Homo sapiens: one gene and its partner. The protein of the gene in region 1 purifies or fractionates together with the protein of each later gene. This does not show direct contact. Each region holds a gene or a part of one and is shown on either strand. Other genes may lie near its edges.

What was found.
Region 2: the proteins of DMXL2 (region 1) and NHSL2 purify together in Homo sapiens (co-immunoprecipitation; one large-scale study listed by IntAct). This does not show direct contact.

Annotation. Positions count from the first base shown.
Region 1 is NC_000015.10:51,497,183-51,501,008, reverse strand, and holds part of DMXL2 (dmX-like protein 2), read left to right. Parts: intron 1-777; coding exon 778-2,457; intron 2,458-2,544; coding exon of another isoform or gene 2,545-2,630; exon of another isoform or gene 2,631-2,772; intron 2,773-3,826. UniProt on the Homo sapiens protein: May serve as a scaffold protein for MADD and RAB3GA on synaptic vesicles. Plays a role in the brain as a key controller of neuronal and endocrine homeostatic processes.
Region 2 is NC_000023.11:72,148,107-72,151,932, forward strand, and holds part of NHSL2 (NHS-like protein 2), read left to right. Parts: 3' UTR 1-3,826.

The DNA of each region.
Region 1 (3,826 bases):
AATCTAGGGGAAACAGTAACTGATCCCAATTGTTTAGATGGAATAGGCTCAGATGATTAAGTAGCTTTCCCACTGTTAATGAAATTATTGATGGGTTGAAACTCAAATCCAGATCTTCTGACCTCAGATCTTTAATCTCTATATCCCCTTGTCTTACAGTTGACAACAGATGTGCATTGTTAGTCTTTGGCAGTCAGGAATAGATAAGAGGGTTCTGGTTCAGTGCTAAGAGAGGATGAATTAAACTTGGTAAAATGGGTAAGATCTATTGGTCTGTTTTGCGGTCTGAAACAAAATTTGGTGTACCACCTGGGGTCTGGATTATTTGAGAGAAGGTTAGGGGCATTTGAAAGGCAAATTGTAAAGCTCAGTTAAGTATTCATGATGAAAATGATTAAATATATAGTATGAAATTCTAAGGAGGCATGTTGTGAAGGTAAATATAAATAATAGAAACACATTAAGGGCTGACTTGTTTCAGTGCTTTTGAGTTTTATTTTAATTAAATGGTTGCCTCATTTAAACTTAATTACCTAAAAACAAATTAAGTGATTATTATTGCATACCTTGATTTCACTGATGGGCTCTTCAAGACCTTTATAGATATGTTGGCCAATGGACATTTAGTGGGATACTAGTTAAGAGGAAGACTGCAGAGATATTCTGAAGAAGCTCATAGTGACTTTAAATTGATCACATTCCAGAATTTGATTACTACCATATTATTTTGTGGCTTTATTATTATTACAACTAACTATTTGCTTTTTCTTTTTTAAGGCCATCTGAGTTCTTCTTCAATTTATCCAGTGTGCCTTGCACCTTATTTAGTGGTTACAACTTGTTCTGACAATAAAGTACGCTTCTGGAAATGTTGTATGGAAGCCAACCCAGAGTGTAATAAAAGTGATGAGAAAGAAATTTATCATTGGAAGAGATGGCCTTTGATGAATGATGAAGGAGAAGATAATAGCAGTACAGTGAGCATTGTGGGAAGACCAGTTGCTGTTAGCTGTTCATACACAGGTCGCCTTGCAGTGGCTTATAAGCAGCCTATCCACCATAATGGTTTTGTTTCTAAAGAATTTTCCATGCATGTTTGTATATTTGAATGTGAATCTACAGGAGGATCAGAGTGGGTTTTAGAACAAACAATTCATCTTGATGATTTGGTTAAGGTTGGGAGTGTACTTGATTCAAGGGTCAGCGTCGACAGTAATCTGTTTGTGTATAGCAAGTCAGATGCACTCTTGAGCAAGGATAGATATCTTATTCCGAATATCAAACATTTAGTACATTTGGACTGGGTATCAAAAGAAGATGGCTCCCACATTCTTACAGTGGGAGTCGGTGCGAATATCTTCATGTATGGAAGGCTTTCAGGAATTGTGACTGAGCAAACCAACAGTAAGGATGGAGTAGCTGTCATCACTTTACCACTAGGTGGTAGTATCAAGCAAGGAGTTAAGTCAAGATGGGTTCTTCTTAGATCTATAGACTTGGTATCTTCTGTTGATGGTACTCCTTCACTGCCTGTTTCTCTCTCTTGGGTAAGAGATGGGATATTGGTGGTAGGAATGGATTGTGAAATGCATGTATATGCACAGTGGAAGCATGCTGTCAAATTTGGAGACACTGAAGCTGATAGTTCTAATGCAGAAGAGGCAGCAATGCAAGATCATTCGACCTTTAAATCTAATATGCTGGCAAGAAAAAGTGTTGTTGAAGGAACAGCTATTTCTGATGATGTTTTTTGTTCACCAACTGTAATTCAAGATGGTGGCTTATTTGAGGCTGCACATGTACTTTCCCCTACTCTTCCACAATATCATCCAACTCAGCTGTTAGAATTGATGGATTTAGGGAAAGTGCGAAGGGCTAAAGCCATTCTCTCTCATTTAGTAAAATGTATTGCAGGTGAAGTAGCAATAGTTAGAGATCCTGATGCTGGAGAAGGAACTAAGCGACATCTCTCTCGAACTATTAGTGTAAGTGGCAGTACAGCAAAGGAAACAGTCACCGTAGGAAAAGATGGTACTCGAGATTATACTGAGATAGATTCTATCCCTCCACTACCACTATATGCATTACTTGCTGCAGATCAAGATACATCCTACAGAATTTCAGAAGAAAGTACAAAGATACCACAGAGCTATGAAGATCAGACAGTAAGTCAACCAGAGGATCAGTATTCAGAGCTGTTTCAAATCCAGGATATACCAACGGATGATATTGATTTAGAGCCTGAAAAGAGAGAAAACAAATCAAAAGTAATAAATCTTTCTCAATATGGACCAGCTTACTTTGGCCAAGAACATGCAAGGGTACTTTCAAGTCATCTTATGCACTCAAGTCTACCAGGCCTTACCCGTTTGGAGCAGATGTTCCTTGTAGCTTTGGCTGATACAGTGGCTACTACTAGTACTGAGCTTGATGAAAGCAGAGATAAGAGTTGCTCAGGTAAATATTCTCGCTAAAAATTTATAAAGTTGTACCTAATAGAAATATTTGTATTATCTCTATACTGACTCATTTACTGAATTGCAGTCTCAACTTTCAAACTTTGCAGGGAAAAGACCTCCTTAATAGGTAATTACTATTATATAATATGCTCAGTTAGAAAAGACGGTTGAGGCCGGCATATGAATGCATGGATTTGTGAGATCCATGTGCATTCTCTCATGAGTTTTTACACTGAAACCTTTGTGTCATTTTGGATTTATAATCTTGTTTTTTTGTGTGTGTTTGGGTGGGTTTTTTGTTTGTTTTTTTGAGACAGGGTCTTGCTCTGTTGCCCAAGCTGGAGTTGAGCGGTGCAGTCATGGGTCACTGTAGCCTTAACCTCTCAGGTTCAAGTAATCTTCCTATCTCAGCCTCCTGAATAGCCGGGACCACAGGTGTGCACCACCATGGGGCCCAGCTAATTTCTTTTTATTTTTTTTGTAGGGACTAGGTCTCCTTATGTTGCCCCAGCTAGTCTCGAATTCCTGAGCTCAAGCAGTCCTCCTGCCTTGGCCTCCCACAGTGCTGGGATTATAGGTATGAGTCACCATGGACTGGCCAAGTCTCTTGTTTTTTAACACAGATTGATCCCTATGATTTTTTCTTTGATAATAACAGCCCATTTGTTAATGTTACTATGGAATCATGAGGCTTATTGGGACCTCATGGGCTCAACTTGTTGGTCTTCCCATTTCTAGCCATAAACAACTTTTTACAATTACCTAATTTTCTCCAAAAAGTCTCTTCAGCGAGATTTCCATACAGTTAATGTCATACGTATTTTGCCTAATTCATTCTGTAACTAGAAAATTTTTGGCTGCTTCCTGGAACTAGATTCCATTCTCTTTTATGCACATAGTTCAGGGTAATGGTGTTGATTGTAAATGATGGCATTGGCAAAGGAAACTGAAAATTAATGATCAGAATTTCATTAATTCAATAAATATTTTGGAGGAGTGAAAAATTGCTATGTTTCAGGCACTTTCTTTACTTTATCATATTTAATTATCACAGTCTTCTAGCAGATAGCTATTATTATGTTTAACTTTATAGATGAAGACACTGATCCTTAAGAAATTAAGGGACTCATCTGAGATCACATAGGCATTAAGGAGTAGAAGTGGAGTTCATATGTGGATAAACTGTTGACTCAAAGCCTGTACCCTTTTAACTATTTCATGATTTCCAGATCTGTGGGGGAAAGGTAGCTGGAAAATATCTCTTCATATAGATTTACATCCTTATAGTATATCCCCCAAAGTTTTCTTCTCTGCAGGTTAAAATAACTAGAGACCTTCTAGGGTTTTGCCTATGACTTATTTTCTCA
Region 2 (3,826 bases), on another chromosome or scaffold:
TACTAAAAGCCACTGAGAAGGCCTAGATCATTCATATTGTACATTGACATTTTTACATAAATGGAATTAATACTACTTACCATTTGAGTAAAGAACACAAGGAATTGAAGAGTCTGTGAAAATATGTCCTGTTTGTGAAAGGTGAAACTGTCCAATCCATGTCCAATCAATGTCAGTCGTCCAGTATTGGTGGTGATTATTAAACTTATTGGAGGTACAACTTTACCTCCAATAAGCTTACCTTTACAAGCTTCTGCTTTCCCTGCTTCATCTCTGTTATGGGCTATCAGTCCAGCTTGGTGTGAAAATGAGACTATATCTATACCACAGCCCCCAATCCTTTCAAAGGCTTTGCATGTATTTCAGCTACAAGTGACAAGGATATTAGGGATTTAAAAGGATAAGAGAGTGGGAAAGATGTATAAGGAAGTGCCTTTGTCAAAAGGCAGCAAAAAGTATAATGATATAAACATAATATGAAATAAGCAAATTTTAGAATACTTTGAAACAGATTTATAGAGGAATACATAGTAAATAGTTATAGACACACATTTGGGGCATTTTTAATAAGGTTAGCAAGAAGAAATTTGCATGAGTAATGAGCAATGTGAAATGGGCATTATACTTTTGTTCAGTAAAGCCCAAAATCTAGGCCAATGGTTCTCAAAGTGCAGTTCCAGGAGCAGCAACAGCAGCATCCCTGGAGAGGGAGAAAGAGAGAGAGAGAGAGTGTATGTGTGTGTGTGTGTGTGTGTGTGTGTGTGTGTGTGTGTATGTGCATTCCAGTGATGTTACTCCTTCAAGCCCCTGAATCACTATAGCCACGACTCTCCAACTGATTCCAACCTTTACCATTATTCTGGCTCTCATCATAAGGACCAGTCTCTGGCCAAGAGGTGTATATTGTTATCTTGGTCAGGCATATGTTTGCTTGGTTTTAAGAAATTATCAGATTGAGGAGTCTCATGTTTTATGGGACTCCGGTGCATATGCTCGAAAAAAATTAAAAAGAACTTATCATATTGGATCAACAAATTGCTCAACCTGCAAAATCTTTGATTAGACTTAGCCAGCCCATCTGGCCTGCTTTGGGTTTAAAAAAAAAAAAAAGATTTTTTTTAACTCACAAATGGAAAAAAGGGAAAGGTGTTAAGTTTGTTTGGTATTGCCAGCTCTTAAATACCTGTCTTTACCGTGGTGGCTGTTCTCCAGTAAGGCTCTGGCAGAAGTATATTTGATTTTAAGATTTTTGCCTAAATAGTAGAATTTGATAGCAACGAACTCCAAAACAAAATCTGAACTGGAACAACTAGTTAACCCCTCTCAGCCTCTTTGTAATGCCAAGCTTTATAGACATTTATTCCTTAGGTGGTCTTGAGCTTTTTCTAACATCCAATTTTATAAAATGTTGTGCATGCAAACGCAGCATTGTGCTCATTGTACAAGTCACCTCAAACTCATTCCTTCCCCCATGTGTATCATGGCGAAGAAATATCAATATATGTATGTGCTGAGGTCTTCTGATGAATTGTAAATTACAAACCTTTTCATTCATTTTTAAATGAGATATATTTACCCTGGCTAGTGGTTAAAGTTTTATTCTTTTTATTATATTTCACTGCTACTTTTTTCTACTGACTCCAAAGCTTACTTTGGGCTATATTTCTTATTTCTAGATTGTTGTATTTATCTTATTTCTATATTTATCTGCAGTCTTGGAATGTTAGAGCTGAAAGGGACCAACCTCTCTCATTTCACACATGAGGAAGCTGAGGCCCAGAAAGGTCAAATAACTTATATACAAGGTCACACAGTGAGTCAGTGGTGGGGCCCAGCCTCAATTCCAGGTCTCCTGCCCTTGGGCCCAATCTGGTTTCATTTAAAGCACTACAATTTATAGAAGACCCACAGCTGGCTTCTACTTTTATGACACATGAATTTCCCAGGTATTTCAATGAACTAATATATATGCTTTAAGGGAAAATGTTCAAGAGTTCTTTAATTCATTAATCCAAAGACAAATTGGATTTTCAGTTTATAAACATTAGTTTCCCTCCAAATTCAATATGTGCACCCTACTTAGTACAATGGATGTTTTCCCTAAAAGTTGTGTGAAAAATGAGTTTTTTAGATATCAAGTATCATTTTTTAGAGGTAAACTTCCTATGTAAGGGAACCTTCTGGTGACTTCTTTTTGAAAAACCGAGATTCCTCTTGTCATTGTCCCATAATGTCTCTACTTTTTTTAGTGCAAACTTTTGTATTTGGTGTTTATTTAAAAGTAGGGTACAACCCAACCAATATTAGCTTTCCCAGAGTCTACTTTAGCCTTCCCTTCTTAATCTTTATGAGAAATTTTCAGACTGTTAAATGCTCATGAGATATTTAGTTGTGTTCTAGAAATTTCACCTGGCTTGATATTCTGTCAATCCCTGGGCTCAAATTCCAGCTCCATCTTATCAAACAATAACAGAATTCCCTAATCAGTACTAAGCTCCGCATGCAGTCTCTTTTCCAGAACATTCTTTGCCTAATGTTCCTTAGTGTGGCTCTCTCTTTAGTTGGGGCCTCCTTCCTTAGTACATGCATACCTTACTATTCTGTGGAATTGCAAGCCATGCATCTTTTAGAGCCACACTAGTCAAATTGATTGGCATTTCCATTTATTTTCCATTGTTCCCTTGTTTCTCCTGGACTTCCTCTCGTTTCTCTTTTCGAGGATGCTTAGAGGCTTCTCACCAGAGATTGGTGAGGTTTCCCCCATCATCTAGATGGGAGATTGACAAATTCTGTAAAGGTTAAGACAGTAACTATTTTAGGCTTTGTGGGCTACATGTGGTCTCTGTAGCACATTCTTCTTTGTTGTTGCTGTTTGTTCATTCGTTTGTTTTGCAACCTTTGGATAATGTAAACCACTCTCTTTTTTTTTGACAGAGTCTCTCTCTGTAGCCAGGCTGGAGGGCAATTGTACAATCTCGGCTCATTACAACCTCCACCTCCCGGGTTCAGGCAATTCTCCTGCCTCAGCTTCCCGAGTAGCTGGGACTATAGGTGCGTGCCACCATGCCCAGCTAATATTTTTTTTTTTTTTGTATTTTTAGTAGAGGCAGAGTTTCACCATGTTGGCCAGGATGTTCTCGATCTCCTGACCTTGTGATCCGCCCACCTCGGCCTCCCAAAGTGCTGGGATTACAGGTGTGAGCTACCGCACCCTGCCAATATAAACTATTCTTAGCTCATGGGCTATGCAAAGCCTTAGGCTGACCCCTGATCCAGACTGTCTTCTGAGACAAGCATTTCTGTGAGCTGCCCCATGTGATAACTGAGTTGTGCAGTAGCTGATGTGGTTTATTGCCTTCCCATCTACTGCATTGTCAGACCAGACTGACTGCACAGGAGCAGGTGGAGGGGGGCTGCATATGCCAACCATTACTCTTCAATAGAGTGTCCTTCATGAGCTCTCTCTCTCTCTCATTACTGACTACCTCAGTGTAGAAACCCTCATTTTTTTCCCCAGACCTATCCTTGTTACCCAATGTGCCTCTGCTTCCCTGGGTTTGGGATAAACTGGAAGGAGAGAATTTCTGAGTTCTCTTACTTATTTTGTTCCATAACTTCTCCCTCATATCTGTGGTTGGAGACTCCCACCCTTGTCCACCCTTTCCTGCCTCATACTAGTATCATGAGTTTAGGGCTGTCGTTGGAAAGTCTGGCAGCCCAGGCCATAGGATTCCAGTTCAGCCTACGATTTCCTAGGGAAATCACCAGGTTCCAAAGGCTGGTTTTTAAACCTAGAATATCCATGTATCCATTTCCTAATGCAGTT